Linked DNA regions of Homo sapiens: all the other regions are linked to region 2. Evidence: fine-mapped expression QTL. A gene starts in region 2. Each other region holds a variant in brackets. All regions are shown on one strand. Distances are between the middles of the regions.

What was found. PIP is the estimated chance that this variant, and not a neighbour inherited with it, causes the effect. A credible set is the group of variants that fine-mapping cannot tell apart.
Region 1: its variant is the best candidate, but not a certain one, in a credible set for the expression of TADA2A in fibroblasts (GTEx, PIP 0.57).
Region 3: its variant is the best candidate, but not a certain one, in a credible set for the expression of TADA2A in prostate (GTEx, PIP 0.59).

The regions. Positions count from the first base shown.
Region 1 is chr17:37,530,493-37,534,733 of GRCh38, forward strand. All of the region lies in intron 19 of SYNRG (synergin gamma), which reads right to left. Among named protein-coding and RNA genes, the nearest start is that of DUSP14, 43 kb to the left of the region's middle. The variant G/A (reference allele first, on the strand shown) is at 1,907.
Region 2 is chr17:37,404,994-37,409,234 of GRCh38, forward strand. TADA2A (transcriptional adaptor 2A) reads left to right here and starts at 1,893. Exons shown (of 16, transcript NM_001166105.3): 1 at 1,893-1,956. It overlaps ACACA (acetyl-CoA carboxylase alpha), which reads right to left and starts at 1,843. Exons shown (of 56, transcript NM_198834.3): 1 at 1,269-1,843. The coding sequence starts at 1,306. RefSeq lists an enhancer at 3,025-3,709.
Region 3 is chr17:37,447,416-37,451,656 of GRCh38, forward strand. The region is part of intron 8 of TADA2A (transcriptional adaptor 2A); the gene reads left to right. Among named protein-coding and RNA genes, the nearest start is that of DUSP14, 40 kb to the right of the region's middle. The variant T/C (reference allele first, on the strand shown) is at 1,698.

The DNA.
Region 1 (4,241 bases), 130 kb after region 2:
CTGGAGCTCAGGAAGTAAATGCAGAGTTTAATGCATTTCTCTGATCCAGAGGATAATGAACTGAATTCCAGAAGCTCAAAGAAAATTGGAGGACTGCAGTAAACACGTGCTTTTTCTCCCAAGTTCCTTGGATTAGTCATCATAACAGTTAACCAATCCATTAAGGACAGAACTGGAAGACTCTCATTCAGACCCCAAGAATTCTGCCTCTCTGAATGTAAATAGAGAAATAGAGGATAAGTAGTAAACTACCCCCATTCCTTCTCCCCAGCTTCTGTTCGCAATATTCTGATTCAGCTGCCTTTTAGGGGCAGTGATGTGTGGTACTATAGTCCTCCTTAGTCAGGTGGACTGTCAGGACAAAAAATGTCTGGTAGCTTGGGCATGATTCTCCTCTGCTTCAGGAAAGGATGACGGCAGGGTAAAGATGTCAGGTTGCCATGCAGATTTACTGCAATTAAAGTCCCTAAAGTAGTCTGGGCGTGGTGGCTCACACCTGTAATCCCAGCCCTTTGGGAGGTTGAGGTAAGAAGACTGCTTGAGGTCAAGAGTTTGAGACAAGCCTGGGCAACATAGTGAGGCCCTATTCCTACCAAGCCAGGCATGGTGGTGCATGCCTGTAGTCCCAGCTGTGGGAGGTTGAGATGGAAGGATCACTTGAGCCTGGGAGTTCAAGGCTGTAGTGAGCCGTGATTGTGCCACTGCACTCCAGCCTGGGTGACAGTGTGAGACCCTGTCTCTAAACAATGAACAAACAGGTAAATAAATAAAATTCAGTTTTGAGAACTTCATAATCTATCACTACAACGGAAAGGAGAAGTGGGCAAGGGTAACAAGGGCTATCTACAGGGAGGGTTTGTGCAAGTGAATGGAGGGTAATGACACATTTCTCCTACCAGAGTAAAAACACTTGTTTTTCCATTATAAATGCAACAAATGCTATTGAAAGAAAGTTGAAAAAAATGAAAAAACTAAAAGAATATTTAAAAATCCAGTGTTTTGGCTGGACACAGTGGCTCATGCCTGTAATCCCAGTACTTTGGGAGGCCGAGGTGAATGGATTCCTTGAGCCCACGGAGTTTGAGACCAGCCTGAGCAACATGGCAAAACCCTGTCTTTACAAAAAATACAAAAACATTGGCTGGGCTTGGTGGTGTGCACCTGTGGTCCCAGCTACTCAGGAGGCTGAGGTGGGAGAATTGCTAGAGCCCAGGAGGTCAAGGCTGCTGTGAACTGTGATCACGTCATTGTGCTCCAGCATGGGTGACAGAGGGAGACCCTGTCTAAAAAAGAAAAAAAAAAAAATCCAGTGTCTCATCACCCAGACACATCCCTAATATCATTTTGGCAGATTTCCTTCAAGCCCTGTAGTAACACTTCTGTGTCATTCAAACTTCGTGCTCCTTTACAAAATGGCTGCGTAAGATCCTGGGCTAAAGATTCACCACAATTTACTTAACCAATCCTCTAGATTTGGACTTTCAGGTTGTCTCTAATTTTTCACGTTTACAAAGAACAACTTTGTGCACTTAATTTGCTTCTTTCTGTGAATTCATATTTAGAATCGCTGCCTTAGGATATTTTCTCAGATTTGGAATTACTGAGTCAGCTACTCTGAATGCATATTAAGTCCTTTAATTCATTCAACGTTTACTGAGTGTTTACTGAATGTTTACATAGTGCCTGGCACTGTGCTCAGATAAAGAAGAAAAGATGAAAAACACAGTCTTGATCTCTGTCTTCAAGAAGTTCACAGTCAGGGAGAAAGCATGGTGCCAAACTTCTCTTTCCATAGGTGATTCCATCCTACAGTATGTAGTCCACATTTTACCACATCAACACTATTAGTATTCATACAAACAGACCATACAAAAATTGGGCTTAATTAGTAGGCAGGCCGGGCATG[G/A]TGGCTCATACCTGTAATGCCTCTAGCACTTTGGGAGGCAGAGGTGGGTGAATTACTTGAGGCCAGGAGTTCGAGACCAGCCTGGCCAACAGGGTGAAACCCTGTCTCTACTAAAAATACAAAAACTAGCTGGGCGTGGTGGCACGCACCTGTAATCCCAACTACTTGGGAGGCTGAGGCATGAGAATTGCTTTAATCTGGGAGGCGGAGGTTGCAGTGAGCCGAGATTGCACCATTGCACTCCAGCCTGAGTGACAGAGTGAGATCTGTCTCAAAAAAAAAAAAAAAAAAAAAAAATTAGTAGGTAAAAAATGAAACCTTGTTTTAATTTGAATTTATGTTTACTGATTAATTGTACCTCCCCTTTTATGAATCACTTCACGTTTTTGCTCATACGTTACTGGGATGTTGGTATATTTCTCATTGATTTGTATGCTTCCTTTACAGAGCAAAGACATGAGCCTGCCATCTGTATGCACTACTACACCTCCTAGTTTACAATTTAATCTATTTTTTCCACACTTAAAATGACTTCCACTCATACTTTGGAGTTATGCCATTTGGCCTATATTGAGAAATGTAATAAGAAACTACCCAATGAAAACTGTTGCTTTATTTACTGAAAGGATTTCTCTTTTTTTTTGAAGGCAATGTTGATTATATTAGTTTCCTCTTTATGAGAACCCACAGAAGAAATTTCTTTCTGATATTCGTATCAAGGCCAGGCACAGTGGTTCATGCCTATAATCCCAACACTTTTGGGAGGCCAAGGTGGGTGGATCACTTGAGGCCAGGAGTTTGAGACCAGCCTGGCCAAAATGGCGAGACCCCGTCTCTACCAAAAATATAAAAATTAGCTGGGCGTGGTGGCGCATGCCTGTAATCCCAGCTACTCAGTAGGCTGAGGCGTGAGAATCGCTTGAACCCAGGAGGTGGAGGTTGCAGTGAGCCGAGATCACACCACTTCCCTCCAGCCTGGGTGACAGAGTGAGACTCTGTCTGGGGAAAAAAAAAAACAAAACAGTCTGGTAGAGGTGTGCAGAATAGATTGCTAGGAGATTAAAAAAAAAATGGAACCAGTAACCCTAGCTATGAGGTCAGAAGTTCAAAAGTGATAAGGGCTTGAATTAGTTAATAATTTTTTTAAAAAAGATTTCTAATTTCATTATATTTTCTTTCTTTTCTTTTTCTTTTTTTTTTTTTTTTGAGACAGAGATTCACTCCTGTTGCCCAGGCTGGAGGGCAGTGGTGTGATCTCAGCTCACTGCAACCTCCGACTCCTGGGTTCAAGCAATTCTCCTGCCACAGCCTCCCAAGTAGCTGGGATTACAGGCATGCACCACCACACCCAGCTAATTTTGTATTTTTAGTACAGACGGGGTTGGTCAGGCTGGTTTCGAACTCCCGACCTCAGGTGATCCACCCACCTCGGCCTCCCAAAGTGCTGGGATTACAGGCATCAGCCACTAAGGCCTTCGTTATATTTTCTAACAAAAAAAATAAGGTTTCTAAACTTCATTTTCTTTTCTTTTTTTTTTTTTTTTTTTTTTTTTTGAGACAGAGTCTTGCTCTGTCACCTAGGCTGGAATGCAGTGGCACGATCTCAGCTTACTACAACCTCCATTTCCCGGGTTCAAGCAATTCTCCTGCCTCAGCCTCCTGAGTAGTGGGGATTACAGGCACCCGCTACCATGGCCAGCTAATTTTTTTTTTTTTTGTATTTTTAGTAGAGATGGGGTTTCACCATTTTGGCCAGGCTGGTCTCGAACTCCTGGCCTCAATTGTTCTGCCCGCCTTGGCCTCCCAAAGTGCTGGGATTCAGGCATGAGCCACCATGCCCAGCCTAATTTCATCATATTTTCTAACTACTAATAATATGTAGGATTGTTATGAATTTTTGCCAAATGCAATACATTTAAACTCCTGAATTTAGATTAAAAAATATTTTTTTATCTATCTATCTATCTATAGACCGGGTTATGAGACTGGTTAATTTTTGTATTTTTGGTAGAGACGGAGTTTTGACATGTTGCTCAGGCTGGTCTCAAACTCCTGGGCTCAGGTGATCCGCCCACCTCAGCCTCCCCAAAGTGCTGGCATGACAGGGGTGAGCCACTGCACCTGGCTGCTTGAATTTAGATTTTTAAAAGAATTTCATTATCACCAAGTAAACATAATTTTATCTCTTTTTTCAAATATTAATACTCCATTTCTTATTTCACTTGCCAGAACAGTATTTTTTTTTTTAATTATCTACATACAATTTTAGGTTAGAAAATGAGAAGTGATTCAAGGGAACAAGAAAAAGTTTTGGAAATTACTTAAACTCTTAAAG
Region 2 (4,241 bases):
ATCTAATTTCTCTCATTTGCTGTGCTCCAGCCACACTGGTCTTGCCCTTTCTCCATGCCAAACAAATCCCCATTTCAGGGTCACTGCACTTGCTGCTTCTCTTCTAGGATAGTTTCCCTCTAGAAATCCATGTTGCTCCTTCTCTCATTAAATGATCAGATATTTATGTGCCTCCTTAGCTAAGAGGCCTTCCTTATCTACCCTAACTAAGAGAATCCCCATATCACTCTTATCCTTTTATCCTGATTTATTTTTCCATAAAACTTGCCACATTACTGGGCATTATCTATCATTTAGTAATGTGTATATTGCTTATTGACAGTCTTCCCTACTATAATATGAGCTCCATGAGGCAGAGACTTTGTTTTGTTCACTGCTGAATTCCCAGCACCTACAACAAGCCTACTCACTAAACATTTGTTGAATTAATCTTCAGGATACATCAAATGTAAAATATCCTATCATATATTTATTGATGTGATGCATAGGAAAATGTCTGGAAGGGTACATACCAAAATGTTAATTATTTATTTAACCTGGTGGGAGGTGGTTTTTCTTTCCTTTTCTTTTCTTTTTGAGACAGAGTTTCGCTCTCGTTGCCCAGGCTGGAGTGGAATGGCAAGATCTTGGCTCATTGTAACCTCTGCCCCCAGGGTTCAAGCGATTCTACTGCCTCAGCCTCCGGAGTAGCTGGGATTACAGGTGCCTGCCACCACACCCGCGTAATTTTTTGTATTTTTAGTAGAGACGGGATTTCACCATGTTGGTCAGGCTGGTCTAGAACTCCAGACCCTGTGATCCGCCCGCCTCGGCCTGCCAAAGTGCTGGAATTACAGGCGTGAGCCACCGCGCCCGGCAGGGCTTTTTTTTTTTTTTTTTTTTGGAATGAACTTGTATTATGCATATACCAAAAAAGAATGAAAGGGTTCACACAGGCATAAAGTGTAAGTGAATTCTAAAAAAAGGTTGGGCAAATTTATCAAAGGCAGACTTCTAAATAGATGTAACAGTTATATAGTTCAGATAAACCATGGTTTGAATTCCCTTCCCCAGTACTTCCTAGCAGTGTGATCCCAAGTTATTTATGTCAGTGCCTAGATTTCTTCACCTGGAAAATAGGGATAACAACAGGTGCCTACCTCACAAGTTTTAAATGAGACCGTATGTGTAACCTGCTTTGTGCAATGTCTGGCATGCAATAAGTACTCGACAAATGGTAGCTATTAGAATCATCATTAACAGCAGTAATAAGAGATCTTGGGACATACCTAGCCCTCAAGATTGACATCAGAGTAGACCACCACATCCTCTCATCATTGCGCCTCAATTTGGGCCTCTGAAGCCCAAAGAGGGGATGGTTCTTTCCAAAGAAGACAATTTCGACGTTCCAGGAGCATCTGATTGAAACGCACCCTCTTCACCCCTTAAAATCAGTCTGGTTCATCCACGAGCAGCCCTTCGGGGCCCGGACTGGAGAGGCGCCACGGCTCGCCGTCCCTGGGCCCAGTTCCCTCAGCCTCAATTTCCCTTGCTGCAACAGGGGTGGAGATGGGAACGTTATCCCCAAACCCAGGCAGTCCCGGCTCGGCCCGCCTCACCGCACTCCGGAGGGGACCAAACAGCCCCACGCGCCAGGAAGCCTCAGGCAACGGGCCACGCGCCACACGGGCAAAGTGATTACTGGTCGGATCAAAAGTCAGGCAAGCGGCTCAGCCCCATCCTCCCAGTCCTCGGGCACGGGGACAGCAGCAGGCGCGCGGCGGGGACCGGGAAAAGGCCAAGAGGGCGGTGGCGGGCGCTCAGCACCCGGCGGGGGCCTCCACGGCCGAGGGGCGGAGGCGGCGGGCGCGCGGCACGCGGCGCGCTCGCCACTGCGCCGCCCGGGGGCGCGCACGCAAAGCCCGGAGGCGCGCGCGACCGGCGGCTCTTTGGCGCGGATTAGGGGGTCTCGGCGAGGTGAGGCGCCAGGCAGCGCTGGGCGGGCGGGCGGGCGGGTGGCGGAGCGCGAGCCCCTCTAGCGGGACTAGGGAGAAGCGGGGGCCACGAGGTGCGGCGGGGGAGGAGTCGCGGGCTGCGGGCCCCGGCGGCGGGCTTGACGCGGCAGGCTGGCGGGCCGGCGGGCGGGCAGCGGCGGGCCTCGCCGCTCTGTGGGGGAGGGCGGTGTGGGGCCGGGCCTGACCCCGGGGGCCCGCCCCGCGTCTGGGCGGTGCCCCAGTGCCCCGGCCTCGCCATTTCCCGCTCAGCCCTGGAGCGCGTAGCTCTACCAAGAATGGCCACTGTGCCAGATGCCCCTGACCAGCGTTGCCCATTTGAATTTCCTAGCAGGCCCCCCAAAGTAGGTATTTCAGTACCCTGTTAGAGCTGAGGCGCAGGTAAAATGACTGGCCCAGGCCGGTCCCACCCCGTAAGGATTTGAACGTTGGCTCCACAACTCGGGAGCCTGCGCCTTTCCTCCTCCCAACGTGGACTCCTGCCCGGCGAAGTGCCTCACTTCCTTCTCCCGGTAACTGATTCGAATTTGGCGATTGTTAGTTTGGAGCTAGCGCCAGTGTTTCCACGGAAGTTGGTGTCAGAATGTGGTCTCTTGTGAAAGGGGGAGAAAGAAGATTCTGCAGACTGCAATATTGTGCTTTTTTGCCTTTTTTTTTTTTTCTCCTAGGCTGTACTGCAGTGCAGTGGCACGATCGCGGCTCACTGCAATCTCCGCCTCCCAGGCTCAAGCGATTCTCGTGCCTGAGGCGTGGGCCACCACGCCCAGCTAATATTTGTATTTTCAGCAGAGGTGGGGTTTCACCATGTTGGCCAGGCTGGTCTCGAACTCCTGACCTCAAGTGATCCTTCCGCCTCGGCCTCCCAAAGTGCTGGGATTACAGGCGTGAGCCACCACGCCCGGCCCTACTATTTTTTTATTTTTTGAGATGGCGTTTCTTTCGCCCAGGCTGGAGTGCAATGGCGCCATCTCAACACACTGCAACTTCTGCCTCCCAGGTTCAAGCGATTCTCCTGCCTCAGCCTCCCGAGTACCTGGGATTACAGGCGCCCGCCACCACACCTGGCTATTTTTTGTATTTTTAGTAGAGATGGGGTTTCGCTGTGTTGGCCAGGTTGATCTCGAACTCCTGACCTCAGGTTATCTGCCCACCTGGGACTCCCAAAGTGCTGAGATTACAGGCGTGAGCCACCGCACCCGGCCTCCTACTGTGCTTTTTCGAGTGTTGATCAGTCCCTATTGACTGTGCATCCTTTACTGGACGTCTGTTTTTGTTTTTGTTTTTTGAGAGGGAGTTTCACACTTGTTGCTCAGGCCAGAGTGCAACAGCGCGTTCTCAGCCCACCGCAACCTCCACCTCCCGGGTTCAAGCAGTTCTCTTGCCTCAGCCTCCCAAGTAGCTGGATTACAGGCATACGCCACCACGCCCAGCTAATTTTGTATTTTTAGTAGAGACAGGGTTTCTACATGTTGGTCAGGCTGATCTCGAACTGCCGACTTCAGGTGATCTGCCTGCCTCGGCCTGCTAAAGTGCTGGGATTACAGGCGTGAGCCACTGCGTCCAGCCTTGACATCTGTATTTGAAATGACACAGCTATCCCTTGTAAGACACTGCGCAAGTAACATACTCTTTCAGAGCTTGCTTGCTTTTGAAAAAGCAGCTTGCCCCAAAAGTGTGGGAGTGAGGATTCAAAGAATCCCCACACCTTGGTACCCACGGGTACCTAGCAAATTGAAAAAGTTCAGTAAATTTGGCAGTTATTTGATTGCTGCGTTCGTAATACACCCTTGCTAGACTCATTTTTCTTCAGAGCTCAACTTTTCCTGAGAGGACAGCAAAGGGAGACCTACCCCACCCCAAAAAGGGAAAGTTCTTTGATGGCAGCGTTAGCAGAAATGTTGCCCACACTTAGTGATGAATTATTCTCCAAGCTAAAAATTACCAGGGTGAAAAAAATCACTTCAGAAAAGCTAAAGATAAATTAACCTTTTGTAGAATTAACATTTATTAGTCCACTACTATGTGTTTATTGTATTCCTCCTGTATGCTTGGCATTTTAAAAGCATACAGATAGGTATCCGATATAGTCTCTGCTTTCACTTATTTATTATTTATTTTTGAGACAGGATCTTGCACTGTCGCCCAGGCTGGAGTGCAGTGGCACAATCTCGGCTCACTGCAACCTCCACCTGCCTGGTTCAAGCAACTCTCATGCCTCAGCCTCCCGAGTAGCTGGGATTATAGGCGCCC
Region 3 (4,241 bases), 42 kb after region 2:
AAGTGCTGGGATTACAGGGGTTAGCCACCGCGTCCGGCCCTAAATGAATGCTTTTAAAAAGATGATAACACTTCAGATTTGGGTATGGTTGGCTCACACCTGTAATCCTAACACTTTGGGAGGCCAAAGTGGGAGGATTTCTTGAGCCCAGGAATTCAAGGTCAGCCTAGACAACAAAGTGAGACCCCCCACCTCTAAAAAATAAAAAAGATGATAACAGTTTAAAGAAGCTTGTCAGCACTACAGACCAAAGGAATGACTTGCTCATGCCACAGAGAGGTATTTTGTTTACAGCTCTGAGTCTTTACAGCAGCTCCTGTGGCAGCATGACCATGTCCAGGAGCATATTGTCCCTGAGCTGTCACTCGCAGAACACTCAGTGAAGTGCACTAGGAGCCCATGGAAAGTCAGGAAGGAATGAAAAGGGGCTTTATAAGCACACCTGGAACAGTTAGAGGGGCACAGATTTTGTAGAAATCAGGACACTGATTCAGCCTCTGGCTTGCTTCTGAGTCATGGTATAATCATGAGTAAGTGCTTGGAATCTTGCTTGCTGTTTCTTTATGTCCTCTGCCATTAAAGAAGAGGTGACACTGATTAGTCAGAGTGTAAATGTCTCTAATGAAACATGGTACATAATTCAGATTTGTGTTGTTACCATTCCATTATACCATTATGCTCTTAATATTACTGAGCATTAACAACATTATTTTTATGGTTCCTCATTTAGAACTACTGGAAGGTTGCAGACTGTTTGGCTGGGTTTTGTATTTAGAACCTATCCAGAATATTGGCTGATGCCACCAAGACCTTTTCCTCACCCACACAAAGATTTTTGCCTTGAATCATGGAATTTGTTTAATAAATTTGGTTTGCATGGTTCATTATAGAGACCTGGGACACAATGGAGGGATAATTGTATTGCAGCCATACCAGAAGGCTTTCAGAATGTATTTCAAATGTATACTGCAAGTGAAGCAGTATCCAAGGAAAAATAAGGAAGTTCCGTGATCCCTAATTGGTACTTACTCATATTTTATTGAAATAAGCAGAAATGTTTGGTTCAGAAAGAGAGAGAGAGAAGACTCATATCTTAGAACTGTCTTGTCTCATGTATGTTGTGAGATCTCAATGCACATGCTTAGTGTAGTTCCTTCTTGCTGCCATCTCTTTCCCCATCTCCTTTCATTTGTAAAAATTCTTCCTAAATTTTTAGAGTACTCTTTCCCTGAGTTTCTCAGGATCCTAAAGTCCTGGTTGTAATGTCTTCCAAGTCATTGTTGCCCCATAACCCAGGCAAGCAAGAGATATGATGAGCTCCTCCTATGTGTTGGGTCTGTGTTTCCAGTACTTCTCAGGGTTGCACCTTAGTACAGTTCACAATTTCTTCTCCCTCTGTTCTGGAAAGGTAATTTTAGAAAGTTTTCTCTCCTAGGCTTGGATCTGTGGACCCCTTCACCTTTCACTGTATTTTTCAAATTGTATTTCTTTGGCACATATTATTAGCCTTTAAATCCTTTAACAATTAGTAGAGCAGAGGTCCAGCCTGGTCTCTGTATATTCACCTACTGGCAGTTCCTTTCACTTATAGTGATTTCACTGTTTTTTTTTTTTATTTTTTTTGAGACGGAGTCTCGCTCTATCGCCTAGGCTGGAGTGCAGTGGCGCGATCTTGGCTCGCTGCAAGCTCCGCCTCC[T/C]GGGTTCACGCCATTCTCCTGCCTCAGCCTCCCGAGTAGCTGGGACTACAGGCACCCGCCACCATGCCTGGCTAATTTTTTGTATTTTTTAGTAGAGACGGGGTTTCACCATGTTAGCCAGGATAGTCTCGATCTCCTGACCTCATGGTCCACCCGCCTCAGCCTCCCAAAGTGCTGGGATTACAGGCGTGAGCCACCGTGCCCGGCCTGATTTCACTGTTTTATACATAGGATATTTTAGACATGAATACTATCAGTAATAATTGCTAATACATATAGCATTTACTATTAGTTACCATTCTAAGCTCTTCATATATATTAAGTCATTTAATCCTCAAAACCTTATGAGTTGCATATTATTATTATCCTCATTTTTGTGGATGAGGACATTGAAGCATAGAAAGGTTAGATAACTTGCCTGAGATCATACAGCCAGCAAGAGGTAGAGTCATCCCCAAGTCTGTGTTCTTAATACTGTACAATACTTAGCTGTCTTTACAATCTTGATTTTTTTTTTTTTTTTTTGAGACAGGGTCACGCCCTGTTGCCCATGCTGGAGTGCAGTGGCACAATCATGGCTCACTGCAGCCTCAACCTCCTGGGCTCAAACTATCCTCCCACCTCAGCTACCTGAGTAGCTGGGACTCCAGGCGTGCACCATCACACCTGGCTAATTTTTAAAATTTTTTTGTAGAGACAGGGTCTCACTATGTTGCTCAGGCTCAACCTTGAATGTTTGTTGCTGTTTCATTTTTGTGAGGTTTCACATTTGTTATCTTCTATAGCTTCAACACATTCCTGAGGAATAGATATTTTCCTGTTTTACATTCAGGGAAGCAGACAAAGAAGTTAAGTAATTTGCCTAATCCAGGGGTGTCAATCTTTTGGCTTCCCTGGCCCACACTGGAAGAAGAAGTGTCCTGGGCCACACATAAAATACATTAACGATAGCTGATGAGCTAAGGAATAAAAAACAAACAAACTCATAATGTCTTAAAAAAGTTTACGAATTTGTATTGCGCTGCATTCAAAGCCGTCCTGGGCTGCATGTGACTCACGAGCGACAGGTTGGATAAGCTTGGCCTAATGCTTCCTGGTTGCTTACTTTAGCCATTAGATCACATGATCTTCCCTGCACAAAATTGTTTGTGTGCATCTTGGCCAAAAGCTTGGGGGGAAATGACTTAAATAGTGTTGCTTCTGGGGAATACCTGTGTCACAGGTTTCTACTTGTTTGGTCGCAGTAGGGATTTTGATTGGCCTCCCTGCAGTTAAGGCCTCTGAGTTGGTTTTCTTGCCAAGCAAGCAGTAAGTGCCTTCTGTCAAGAAAACAGAAACATGTTGTTAGCTATTTTGAACAATGTTAGAAATACATTGCAGTGGGAAGGAGCTGCCTCTGACTTCTGCCCACTTCTTGAAATATTTTAAGGCTAGCCGTTTGGAAACTTTATCATTCTCCAGTGTAATCACAGGGAGACTGTGCTTCCCCCAAAGCTGAGATTTCAGGGGCCTTGTAGCAATGGACAAATTACAGGTGATTTTGGTTTGTTTGTTTATTTTTAATGATCTCTGGTTCTCTGTTTGCTAGCTTATACTGCAGCTTCCAGCTGCTTTAAGTAGACTGTGAGCAAGTGATTCTCATTCTTGTAGATTCTGCCTTCTCATTTCTGTTCTGCCTGCTGTGCTGTTGTCCTCCCTAGGTTATTCATACAGTTAAGATATTGTATTCAGTTGCTGCTGAGTGTGCTCAGAGATAGCTTCAAATATGAATTTTTATCTGGGAGAATTCCAGTTCTCCTCCCATTTGCTCCTATGTGTTTCTTTTCTTCCTTTTGTTCTCCAGAGCCAGTTGTACAAGTTTAAACTACTGAAGTGATCAAACTGTAGTACCAATTATCAGCAGTATTTATTCAGAGGCTTTTTTTTTTAAAAGAAACAGAGTCTCATTCTGTTGCCCAGGATGGAATGCAGTGGTACAATCTTTAGCTCACTGTAGCCTTGAATTCCTGGGCTCAAATGATCCTTCCGCCTTAGCCTCACAAGTAGCTAGGACAACAGGCACACGCCACCACACTTGGCTAATTTATAAAAAAAATTTTTGTAGAGACAGAATCTCAATGTGTTACCCAGGCTGGTCTCAAAACTCCTGGCCTCAAGCGATCCTCCCACCTCAGCCTCCCAAAGTCTGGGATTACAGGTTTTTTTGTTTTTTGGCTTTTTTTTTTTTTTTGAGACGCCCTCTGTAGCCCAGGTTGGAGTGCAGTGGTGCAATCTTAGCTCACCACAGCCTCTGCCTCCCAGGCTATAGCAATCCTCCCACCTCAGCCTCCCAAGTAGCTGGGACTACAGGCACATACCACCATGTCTGGCTATATTTTTGGTACATTTTTGTAGAGACAGGGTTTCACTATGTTGCCCAGGCTGGTCTCGAACTCCTAAGCTCAACCCATCTGCCCACCTCAGTTTCTCAAAGTGCTGGGATTACAGGTGTGAGCCACCATGCCTGGCCTTTTTTAAAAATTAAATCACTCCTACACAAATCTC